Homo sapiens: one gene and its partners. The protein of the gene in region 2 interacts with the protein of the main gene of each other region in a pairwise test. Each region holds a gene or a part of one and is shown on either strand. Other genes may lie near its edges.

Region 1 (3,500 bases), on a different chromosome or scaffold from region 2:
TGCTGAGGATGGCTACACAGAAGGGGCTGCCTGTCAGCCCTAGATTAATTGCTCTTCTGCAGACTGCCTTTATGGGAAAGAAAAGTAAACTATCTTGTCTAAGCCATTATCCTTTGGACTTTCTGCCACAACCAGCCAAAGTAAATCTTAATTTGTGTACCCAGTATCACTTATACTATTTAATATGGTACTAAAAGTCCTGGACAATACTATAAATGAAGAAAAATAAATAAGTGACAGGATAGATTTGCATACAATATGACCAACTACTTAGAAAGAACATCAGAATCAACAATGAAGTATTAGAAATAATAAGGGCATACAGCAGGGGTAACTTACAGAAATCAACAGCTTTCCTCTACCCCAGCAAATACCAGCATGAAAAATATTTTTTAAAAAATAAGATAATGGCCTGTAATCCCAGAACTTTGGGAGGCCAAGGTGGGTGGATTGCTGGAGCTCAGGAGTTCAAGATCAGCCTGGACAACATGGTGAAACTCCGTCTCTACAAAAAATTAGCTGGGCGTGGTGGTGCGTGCCTGTAGTCCTAGCTACTTGGAAGGCTGAGGTAGGAAGATCACTTGAGCCTGTGGAGGTCGCCACTGCACTCCAGCCTGGGTGACAGAGCAAGACCAAGTCTCGAGAAAAAAAAAAAAAGATAATGAAAGTGACTGAAGTACCTAGGGATTACTTTAACAAAGAATACATAAGACCTGTATTTCCATTTATGAAAATGAAAGCTTTTTATGCTCTTTACATAAATTTCAAAATATTCTCTACAAAGGTCTTAGATGAAATGACTACTTACAAAGATAATTTTCCCCAAATTAATAGAGAAGTTCAGTGTAACATCGATCAAAATTCTTGTTGTTTTTGAGGGACTTTGATAACTTTTGATATATAATAAAGCCCCATAAATGATTAAACCAGCTTTGAAAAATAAGTGCAAAGGAGCTACTAAGACATTCTATAAAGCCATAATAATAAAAACAGTAAGGTGCTGGCACAAGAATGTGCAAATAGACCAATGGAACAAATCACATCACTCAAGACGGATCCATGTACATGAGGGAACCTGAAATCAGATGAGGTACCACAGATCAATAAAGAAAGAATGGACTATTTAGGAGGTGGTACTGGAAAAACTGCCTACTATATGGAAGAAAATAAAACCGGAGCCTACCGTATGCCATATTCAAGAGTGGAATCTAGATGGATTAAAGATCTGAATGCAAAAGGTAAAAACTACATTAGGCTGGGCGCAGTGGCTCACACCTGTAATCCTAGCATTTTGGGAGGCCAAGGCGGGTGGATCACCAGGTCAGGAGATCGAGACCATCCTGGCTAACACAGTGAAACCCCATCTCTACTAAAAATACAAAAAATTAGCCAGGTGTGGTGGCGGGCGCCTGTAGCACCAGCTACTCGGGAGGCTGAGGCAGGAGAATGGTGTGAACCCGGGAGGCGAAGTTTGCAGTGAGCCGAGATCGTGCCACTGCACTCCAGCATGGGTGACAGAGCGAGACTCATCTCAAAACAAACAAACAAACAAACAAAAAACACTATACATTAACAGATAAAGCAAAAAAGGTGACGTTGGGCTGGGCACGGTGGCTCACGCCTGTAATCCCAACACTTTGGGAGGCCGAGGCAGGCGGATCACCTGAGGTCAGGAGTTCGAGACCAGCCTGACCAACATGGAGAAACCCCATCTCTACTAAAAATACAAAAAATTAGCTGGGCGTGGTGGCGCATGCCTGTAATCCCAGCTACTTGGGAGGCTGAGGCAGGAGAATTGCTTGAACCTGGGAGGTGGAGGTTGTGGTGAGCCGAGATCGCGCCATTGTACTCCAGCCTGGGCAACAAGAGCGAAACTCCGTCTCAAAAAAAAAAAAAAAAAAAATGATGCTAGCACATCAAAATTAACAACAGGCATCTACTCTTGGGGGAAGTATTAAGTAAAACTCAGTAGACATGCCCCATGATGCCCTTGCCAGCAATTAGAAACAAAGTAGTAACATATACATGGCAATACAGACAGATGTTAAAAATACAGCACTGTGCCGGGTGTGGTGGCTCATGCCCATAATCCCAGCACTTTGGGAGGCCAAGATGGGAGGATCACCTGAAGTCGAGAGTTCGAGACCAGCCTGACCAGCATGGAGAAACCCCATCTCTACTAAAAATACAAAATTAGCCAGGCGTGGTGGCACATGCCTGAAATCCCAGCTATGTGGGAGGCTAAGGCAGGAGAATCGCTTGAAACCGGGAGGCAGAGGTTGTGGTCAGCCAAGACTGCGCCATTGCACTCCAGCCTGGGCAACAAGAGTGAAACTCTTTCTCAAAACAAAGAAACAAAACAAAACAAAACAAACAAACAAAAAAAAACAGCACTGTTGGCCAGTTACAGCGGCTCATGCCTTTAATCCCAGCACTTTGGGAGGCCAAGGGAGGAGAATTGCCTGAGCCCAGGAGTTTGAGACCAGCCTGGGCAACATAGAGACACCCTGTCTCAAAACAAAAAACAAAAAACAAAAAAAACCTCCCACTCTGAGTAATACAAAGTTCAGGAAACAAAACGAAGACTGTGGCACCATGCCATGTGTGTCAACTGAAAACACAGTCACTCAAAACAACACTTCATATTTTCATTTTCTATGAAAATGTATCTATATGATACATTTATGTATGTATTTATATGATACATGTATCTATATGATACATTTATATGAAAATGATCTATATGATAAATCTATGATACATTTTCTATGATATGTATCATAGAAGGATACATTTTCTATGATATGTATCATAGAAGGATACATTTTCTATGATATGTATCATAGAAGGATACATTTTCTATGATATGTATCATAGAAGGATACATTTTCTATGATATGTATCATAGAAGGATACATTTTCTATGATATGTATCATAGAAGGATACATTTTCTATGATATGTATCATAGAAGGATACATTTTCTATGATATGTATCATAGAAGGATACATTTTCTATGATATGTATCATAGAAGGATACATTTTCTATGATATGTATCATAGAAGGATACATTTTCTATGATATGTATCATAGAAGGATACATTTTCTATGATATGTATCATAGAAGGATACATATCAAACACGACAGAGCAGCTGCCCACAGAGGTGGGAATTGGGAATAAAAATGAAAAAATAAACATGACAAGAGGAAGCCTTTTGCTGACCTATGACAGAAACCTACCTTGAACTGGAAAGTATGATGAACTCAAACCTCTGCACTTGAGGGCTTTTAAAAGTCAATGGTTTTACTTGGTAATAAAGTTTGAACAAAGTATGTATGTCAGCTACTCAAATTCAGAAATGGCCACAGAGCACTTCTAGTGAATACCGTCCAAAATCAAATGTCTTTCAAAAAACATTTCTAATGAAAGCCAAGACTGAATAACACTAGGTGATGACCTTATCTCAAATTTGGGCTCACTTTTCAGAAAACAAAATA
Region 2 (3,489 bases):
AAAGGAGCAGTCCTGACATCGTGAGGGTGGAGAGCTGCACAGGGTTCACTAAATGCTGGGCTGCCTCACCAGGCAGAGGCTCGGGCTGGGGTCATGGCCTAGCCGCCTCCTTCCCTGGGGGCCCCAGGCTCCCACTGAGCCTCATACCTGTGCCCTGGGAGCCACCAGGCCTGCTCCCCTCCTTCCTGCTTCTCCCTCTTCTCACCTTTCTGCTTCTCTGAGCAGAATGGGCCGAGCAGCTGACAAAGATGGGCCGGGGCAAGCACTTCATCGGAGACTTCCTGCCTCCAGACGAGCTGGAAAAGTTTATGGAGACCTTCAAGGCCCTGAAGGTGAGCCAGGAGGGGCCCTAGCTCCAGCCTCTGCCACATGCCAGCCCCTCCTGTAGCTGCCTCACCCTGCAGGTGCCCAAAGTAGCCTGGCTACCCTCTCGATCACAGCAGGAGCCAGGCCTTTTCGCTGCAGGAGGCATCTGTTAATGACAGGCGCCGTCTGTGTAGGGAATTAGCAAACAGCAGCTCAGCTGCTGCCTCAGAAACATTTCCTGGGGCTGCGGGGGAAATTTTGCTTCCAGTGGAGCCAATTAAGTGCAGTTTACAGGCAAAGTGTTTCTCCGGCAGAAGTCCCCACGGACTGGCCTCTCCAGAACCAGAGTTTAACATTCTGCCTCTGCTGCTGTTGGGCTCCTGAGGAGAGAGGGCTGACATGGCACGTCCCCCATTATCTTTTTGAGGTTTTTTTATAAAACTGTTCAGGGCCTGATAACCTCATTAGTGAGGTGGTAACCTCGTTGTCCATCTCTTATTAGTACCTTGTACAACAAATTGCTCTCAGGACATGAACACGGGGCTTCTCTTTGCCAGTGAACCATTGCTTTATCTCAGGTGGATAAGGCCTGTGTAACTCATCCTCTTGCCCTTTTGACTTGGCCACCAGGGGTGCACAGTTTGGCACTAAGGCCCCGGGGACCCTGAGAAGCAGGAGGAGCTTGGTCTGTTTGTTCTCAAGGAGTCTGATCTGGTGAGAGGGAGGCAGATGGGCCACTGGTCCCAGCACTGATTGAAACCAAAGGCAGAAGGTTGGATTTGGGGGCCACCACAGCCCCAGCCCTGGTGGGTGACAGCTACCTCCTCACCTTGCAGGAGGGCCGTGAGCCTGACTACTCAGAGTACAAGGAGTTCAAGCTGACTGTGGAGAACATCGGCTACCAGATGCTGATGAAGATGGGCTGGAAGGAGGGCGAGGGGCTGGGCTCAGAGGGCCAGGGCATCAAGAACCCAGTGAACAAGTGAGTGTGGCCTTGTGGGAGGGCATGGCCATGAACTTGGGGTCTGTGGGTCCCCTGCCGCCTCCCCATTCCCACCCCTTTATGTCATCGCTTTTCCCTTGTGGCAAAATGATCACAGCACCCCACTGCACACCCCTTGTCAGGCACAGGCCTGCAGTGCAGGAGGCCATACGGGCTGGGTCCTCCCCAGTCCCAGGGCCTCCTTCCGTCCCCTCATGAGTATCTCCAGGCCAGATGGGGTGGGTGAGGGTACAGATGGGTCAGGCCTTGTCTGCCTTGTGAAGGGCCTTATTTGAATTCCCCATGAGTGCGAAACCACTCCCAGAGATGGGCAGGAGCTCTCCCAGGTGTGACCCTGGCCCCGAGTGCCCCCTTCAAGGCTGTCCTTGAGTAACCATCCTGCCATCCCAAGAGCTGCGACAACTTGCACTGTGGGCTCCTCCTTCCTGTGTGGGACCCTGGGGCCTAGGCCCCCCCCCCCCGCCCGCCCCGGGGGTCTCCCCTCCTTGACCATTCAGGTTCAAGCTTCTCTCTGTGCAGATATGTCCCAGCCCAGCCCTGCACCCGCGGGAGGTGCTGTTGAGAGCCCAGCTGTGCCCGGCCCCCCGGCCAGAGTTCTGGCCCCAGGTCCCTGCTCACATCCTCTTCTCCCTGTAGGGGCACCACCACAGTGGACGGCGCTGGCTTCGGCATTGACCGGCCGGCGGAGCTCTCCAAGGAGGACGACGAGTATGAGGCGTTCCGCAAGAGGATGATGCTGGCCTACCGCTTCCGGCCCAACCCCCTGGTACGCATGTCCTCCTGGGCTGCCTTTGCTCAGTCGACAGGAGAGGGTGGTGGTAGGAACAGAAGGCTCCCTTCCTTCCTCAGTCCAGCCAGGCTGGGTCTCACCAGCGAGCCCCCTACCACCCACCTGCATTCAAGCCCCCACCCGTCCCCCAAGCCTGCCCTGCCACCTCAAGGGTGCGGGCTCAGCTGCCTCCGGAAGGTTCCAGACAGGAGGAACTGCTGTCTTTAGTGCTAATCCCCTCCTCCTGTTATCTGTTTTGCCTTCCACAGAACAATCCCAGACGGCCTTACTACTGAGTGTTCTGGAAATACATACTTTCTGAATGACCAACCGTCCCTGGACTGTGGAATGTTCCGGCCTGCATTTCTGCCCACCCCTTCCGTTGTCACGAGTGCCGTGCCGTGTAATAAAGTCCCAGTGCTCATCCACCACAGATGCCTGGTCCTGTTGCAGGAAGCCCCTCCTGTTAGCAGCGGGATGCAAGATGCTGTCTCGGGGCTCTCCTTATTGGCCTGTGGAGTCTCCATCCCCGCTCAGCCTGGGTTGCACTGGAGGGGAGGAAGAAAGTTGTTTTCAGCATAGTAAAGCTGGAAGGCCAGGTGCAGTGTCTCACCCCTGTCATCCCAGCACTTTGAGAGGCCAAGGCGGGCGGATCACTGGAGGTCAGGAGTTTAAGACCAGCCTGGCCAACATGGTGAAATCCTGTCTCTACTAAAAATATAAAATTAGCTGGGCATGGTGGTGCACACCTGTCGTCTCAGCTACTCGGGAGGCAGAGGCAGGAGAATGGCTTGAACCTGGGAAGCGGTTGCAGTGAGCCAAGATTGCGCCTTTGCACTCCAGCCTGGGCAAGAGAGCAAGACTCTGTCTCAAATAATAATAATAATAATAAAGCTGGAGACTTGGCCACACCTGGGCTAAAGGAATGTCAGGAACCTCCGAGCCTAGCACTGTGCTGCAGAGGGAGGTTGGGGAGGGGTCTCCAGGCAGGGCCCCACCTTCCCTCAGACCTGTGGGGGCAGGTGGCTTCTGGGCACACCCATGTGCTCTCCTGGCAGGTGGTGCTGGCACGGCCCAGCACACAGGTGTTGGCTGTGGCCCTTCAGGTCCCACCAGTGTGGTAGGCACACGAGTCCCTGGGGCTTGTGTCGTTAGGGGACAGCCGCATGGATGCATGGATGTGCCATGCCAACATGTCAGGCAGCTCCTAGAAGGAAGGGCCTCAGAGCCGGAGGTTTTGAGGCAGGAGGGTAGCCCAGGCCACAGTGTGTGCCAAGACCCCCACATCTGCCCCAGGGCCAGAGCCCCACATTTGTGCCTAAGTCACCCTGGGGATCTTGTTAAGCTGCAGCTGCCGAGTCAGCTGGTTGGGCAGGGCCCTGGGAATTTGCATTTCCATCTGCCCCCACCC
Region 3 (3,500 bases), on a different chromosome or scaffold from region 2:
TCACATAAGAATGAAGGGATGGTCAGGCACGGTGGCTCACGCCTGTAATCCCAGCACTTTGGGAGGCATAGGTGGGCGGATCACTTGAGGTCAGGAGTTAAGAGATCAGCCTGGCCAACACGGTGAAAACCTGTCTCTATTAAAAATACAAAAATTAGCTGGGCGTGGTGGTGGGTGCCTGTAATCCCAGCTACTCCGGAGGGTGAGGCATGATAATCGCCTGAACCCGGGAGATGGATGTTGCAGTGAGCCAAGATCACACCACTGCACTCCAGCCTGGGTGACAGATAAAGACTCCGCCAAAAAAAAAAGAAAAGAAAAGAATGAAGGGATGCCGGGATGCAGACAGACTCTCCTCCTGATAGATGTCTTCAGTGCAAAACTGACCTTTTTCAGGAACTTGGGGATGTCTCGTGACAGGCCTGAAGCACTGAGGCCAAATCAAGAAAAAATAATGAACTCCATTCCTTAAGAAATATGGATGAAATATAACCATGTCCTCAAAGTCTTGGAGGGAATCCCCTGATGTCCACTTCAGAGCCTAGTTTAATAACTCTGAACTCCAAGAAAACCTAGATCCAGGTTGTTCTGTTCACTGCTCTATCCCCAGACTAAGATCAATATCCAACCCACAGCTAAATAGGAAATGAGGCCAAACTGCAGTTTATACTCCATTTGCGAAGCCCTCTCAATTAGAAATTTCTGGCCAATAATCACTGGCCAGAAGGAACAACACTGCACCAAACAGCTTTTGAGGCTTTTGTACACTTTTCTTCCAGCTTACCCAGAACTCAAAACTCATTGTTCACATCTAGATACATACCCTTAAATTTTAATCTAAGAAAACTCAAACAGAGCAACAGCACAGAAAAACCATGCTGAGTGTCCAGCTTAGCACTGTGGCTCCCAAACACATTTCTTCAGAAATGACCATGCACCTTTCATCTAACTTAGTTTAATCTTTTGAGCCCTCTTCATCCAACTGGTCAGCAAACCAAAGCCTACTGAACTACAGGTTCTTCTGTTCTTTCTTTATTCTTAAAATGGAAAGGGAATACTAACAGATTCTGAGAAATAAACAATGCGACTTTCTGGGAAATCACAAAGATAAATCAAAATTTGTTTGCAACTCAAACTAAACTCTAGATATTTGCTTTTCTCAATACAGACTATCTCCAGTATGAAAATCTGAAATCCTTCAAAACCTAAAACGTTCCGAGCAACAACATGACCCCAAAGTAGAACATTCCACACCAGGCCGGGTGCGGTGTCTCGCACCTCTAATACCAGCACTTTGGGAGGCTGAGGCGGGTGGATCACGAGGTCAGGAGATCGAGACCATCCTGGCTAACACGGTGAAACCCCGTCTCTACTAAAAATACAGAAACAAAATTAGCCAGGCATGGTGGCGGGCACCTGTAGTCCCAGCTACTCAGGAGGCTGAGGCGGGAGAATGGCGTGAACCCAGAAGGCAGAGCTTGCGGTGAGCCAAGATTGCACCACTGCATTCCAGCCTGTGTGACAGAGTGAGACTCTGTCTCAAAAAAAAAAAAAAAAAAAAAAAATTCCACACTTGACTTCATGTGATGGGTCACAGTCAAAAACAGAGTGAAATCTTTTTGCATGCATAAAATTATTAAAAGTATGACATATATTGCATATTCAGGCTATGTGTAGAAAGTATATATGAAGCATAAATGAATTTTGTGTTTAGACATGGGTCGCATCCTCAAGGTATCTCATTATGTATATGCAGGCATTCTAAAAATCTAAAAATATCCGAAATCTGAAACACTTCTGGTCCCAAGCATTTTGGGTAAGGGATACTCAACCCATTTCTCTTTATAACTTGAGAACTTTACCGAAAGTGTTTATGAATACGTTAGTGCCACCAGAAATGGGTTAACCAAATGCCCATTAAACTTCGAGGGGAAAGATTCACTTATTTATTTTTGCATCTACAATTTCTGTCATATAGCAAGCATTTAATAAGCTTTATTAAAATACTAATAATGGGCCGGCTGCGGTGGCTCATGCCTGTAATCCCAGCACTTTGGGAGACCGAGGCGGGCGGATCACTTGAGGTCAGGAGTTTGAGACCAGCCTGGCCTACGTGGTGAAAACCCATCTCTATTAAAAATATAAAACTAGCCAGGTGTGGTGCTGCACGCCTGTAGTCCTGTCCCAGCTGAGACAAGAGGGTGAGATAGGAGAATTGCTTGAACCCGGGAGGCGGAGGTCGCAGTGAGCCAAGATTGCACCACTGCACTCCAGCCTGGATGATAGAGCGAGACTGTCTCAAAAAAATAAAATAAAAAATAAATAGGCAAAGAGGCAGCACTGGGGAATAAGGGAAGGAAGTAACCCCCAGAGAGGGAGGCAACACTCCTCACCCTCCCCAGAAGAGTCAACTCTGATGAAAAGAGTTCTCTAAACTTTGAGGCTAAAAATCTAGCAGTGTACTAGATCTCAGCTGCCAACAGTTCTTCCATCAATAGATTCAATATTTAGCAAAAATTAAATAGTGAATTAATGAGATTTTATGAGACCACACATCTCCTCTGATTCCATGTCATTTAAGATGGCTGACTGACAATTCCAGTTGATTTGCTGCATTGCGCAAAAGTTTCAGAAATCATCAGGCAGCAAATCTCATGCTCATTTAAAGGTCCTCATTTCTCTTCTCAAACCTGCAAAACGCTTTAAATATTAGAAACTGATGTCATCTTACCAGCACCTGCTAGTTTTCTGTAACATTGAGCTTATAAAATCAAATCTCTGCATCACAGCAAATGCAAAAGTGCTTTCTTCGTTTTTCTCATTTTCACTGAATTTTAAGTTCACAGAATGGGATTAATCATAGTAACATCACACTCTCATCCATTCACACACTTATTACCTGCTTTTGTTTAATTATTATAATGCTGCAAGCACCTGTGAATTCACCACCCAAAACAAGACAGGATCTAGACTAAGAAACCACACTCAACCATACTACTCCCCCAACCCATTCATGTAATTTCCCCGGAATCCTCTTCTCATTATTTCCTTGCTTTCCTCCTTTTATGTTAATTTTATTTACAGTTTTAGTTAATCTATTCCTTAAAAAGTGTGTATTCTTTATTTTCGCTATATTAAGCATTTAATATACAATAGTTTGTTCATTAATTCTCCCCACCGCAACTACTGAAATGTAATAAGTACATTAATAAGACTGCCAAGACCCAAACTTACCCTAATTAACGTTGACATTATTACTTAGACAACATAACACATTTATTTCATTAGGTCTGCTGCCAGGTAACAAAAAGCTGTACTTTGTAACAACTGGATATACCATAAGAAGCCAGGATCAAAAGTAAATACAAATTGCTGGTTTTTATAACTTTAAAATATTTGCTATTTCCTTCCTTTTTGTGGCAACACTTCCCTTTGAGCAACCCACGTTTCATATATGCTACATTTTTTCTTAGGAAACATAACAAACATGGTTCTGCCAG

Evidence for each region. Proteins that work in one complex are often made in the same cells at the same time.
Region 1: the proteins of SUGP1 (region 2) and RBM10 interact in a two-hybrid assay, tested with the Homo sapiens proteins (one large-scale study listed by BioGRID and IntAct).
Region 3: the proteins of SUGP1 (region 2) and RBM17 interact in binary tests that used the Homo sapiens proteins (3 or more experiments, as listed by UniProt).

The regions. Positions count from the first base shown.
Region 1 is NC_000023.11:47,148,221-47,151,720, reverse strand, and holds part of RBM10 (RNA-binding protein 10), read right to left. Parts: intron 1-3,500. UniProt on the Homo sapiens protein: Binds to ssRNA containing the consensus sequence 5'-AGGUAA-3'. May be involved in post-transcriptional processing, most probably in mRNA splicing. Binds to RNA homopolymers, with a preference for poly(G) and poly(U) and little for poly(A).
Region 2 is NC_000019.10:19,275,533-19,279,021, reverse strand, and holds the end of SUGP1 (SURP and G-patch domain-containing protein 1), read left to right. Parts: intron 1-225; coding exon 226-332; intron 333-1,142; coding exon 1,143-1,288; intron 1,289-1,945; coding exon 1,946-2,075; intron 2,076-2,347; coding exon 2,348-2,374; 3' UTR 2,375-2,989; downstream 2,990-3,489.
Region 3 is NC_000010.11:6,092,034-6,095,533, reverse strand, and holds part of RBM17 (splicing factor 45), read right to left. Parts: intron 1-3,500. UniProt on the Homo sapiens protein: Splice factor that binds to the single-stranded 3'AG at the exon/intron border and promotes its utilization in the second catalytic step. Involved in the regulation of alternative splicing and the utilization of cryptic splice sites.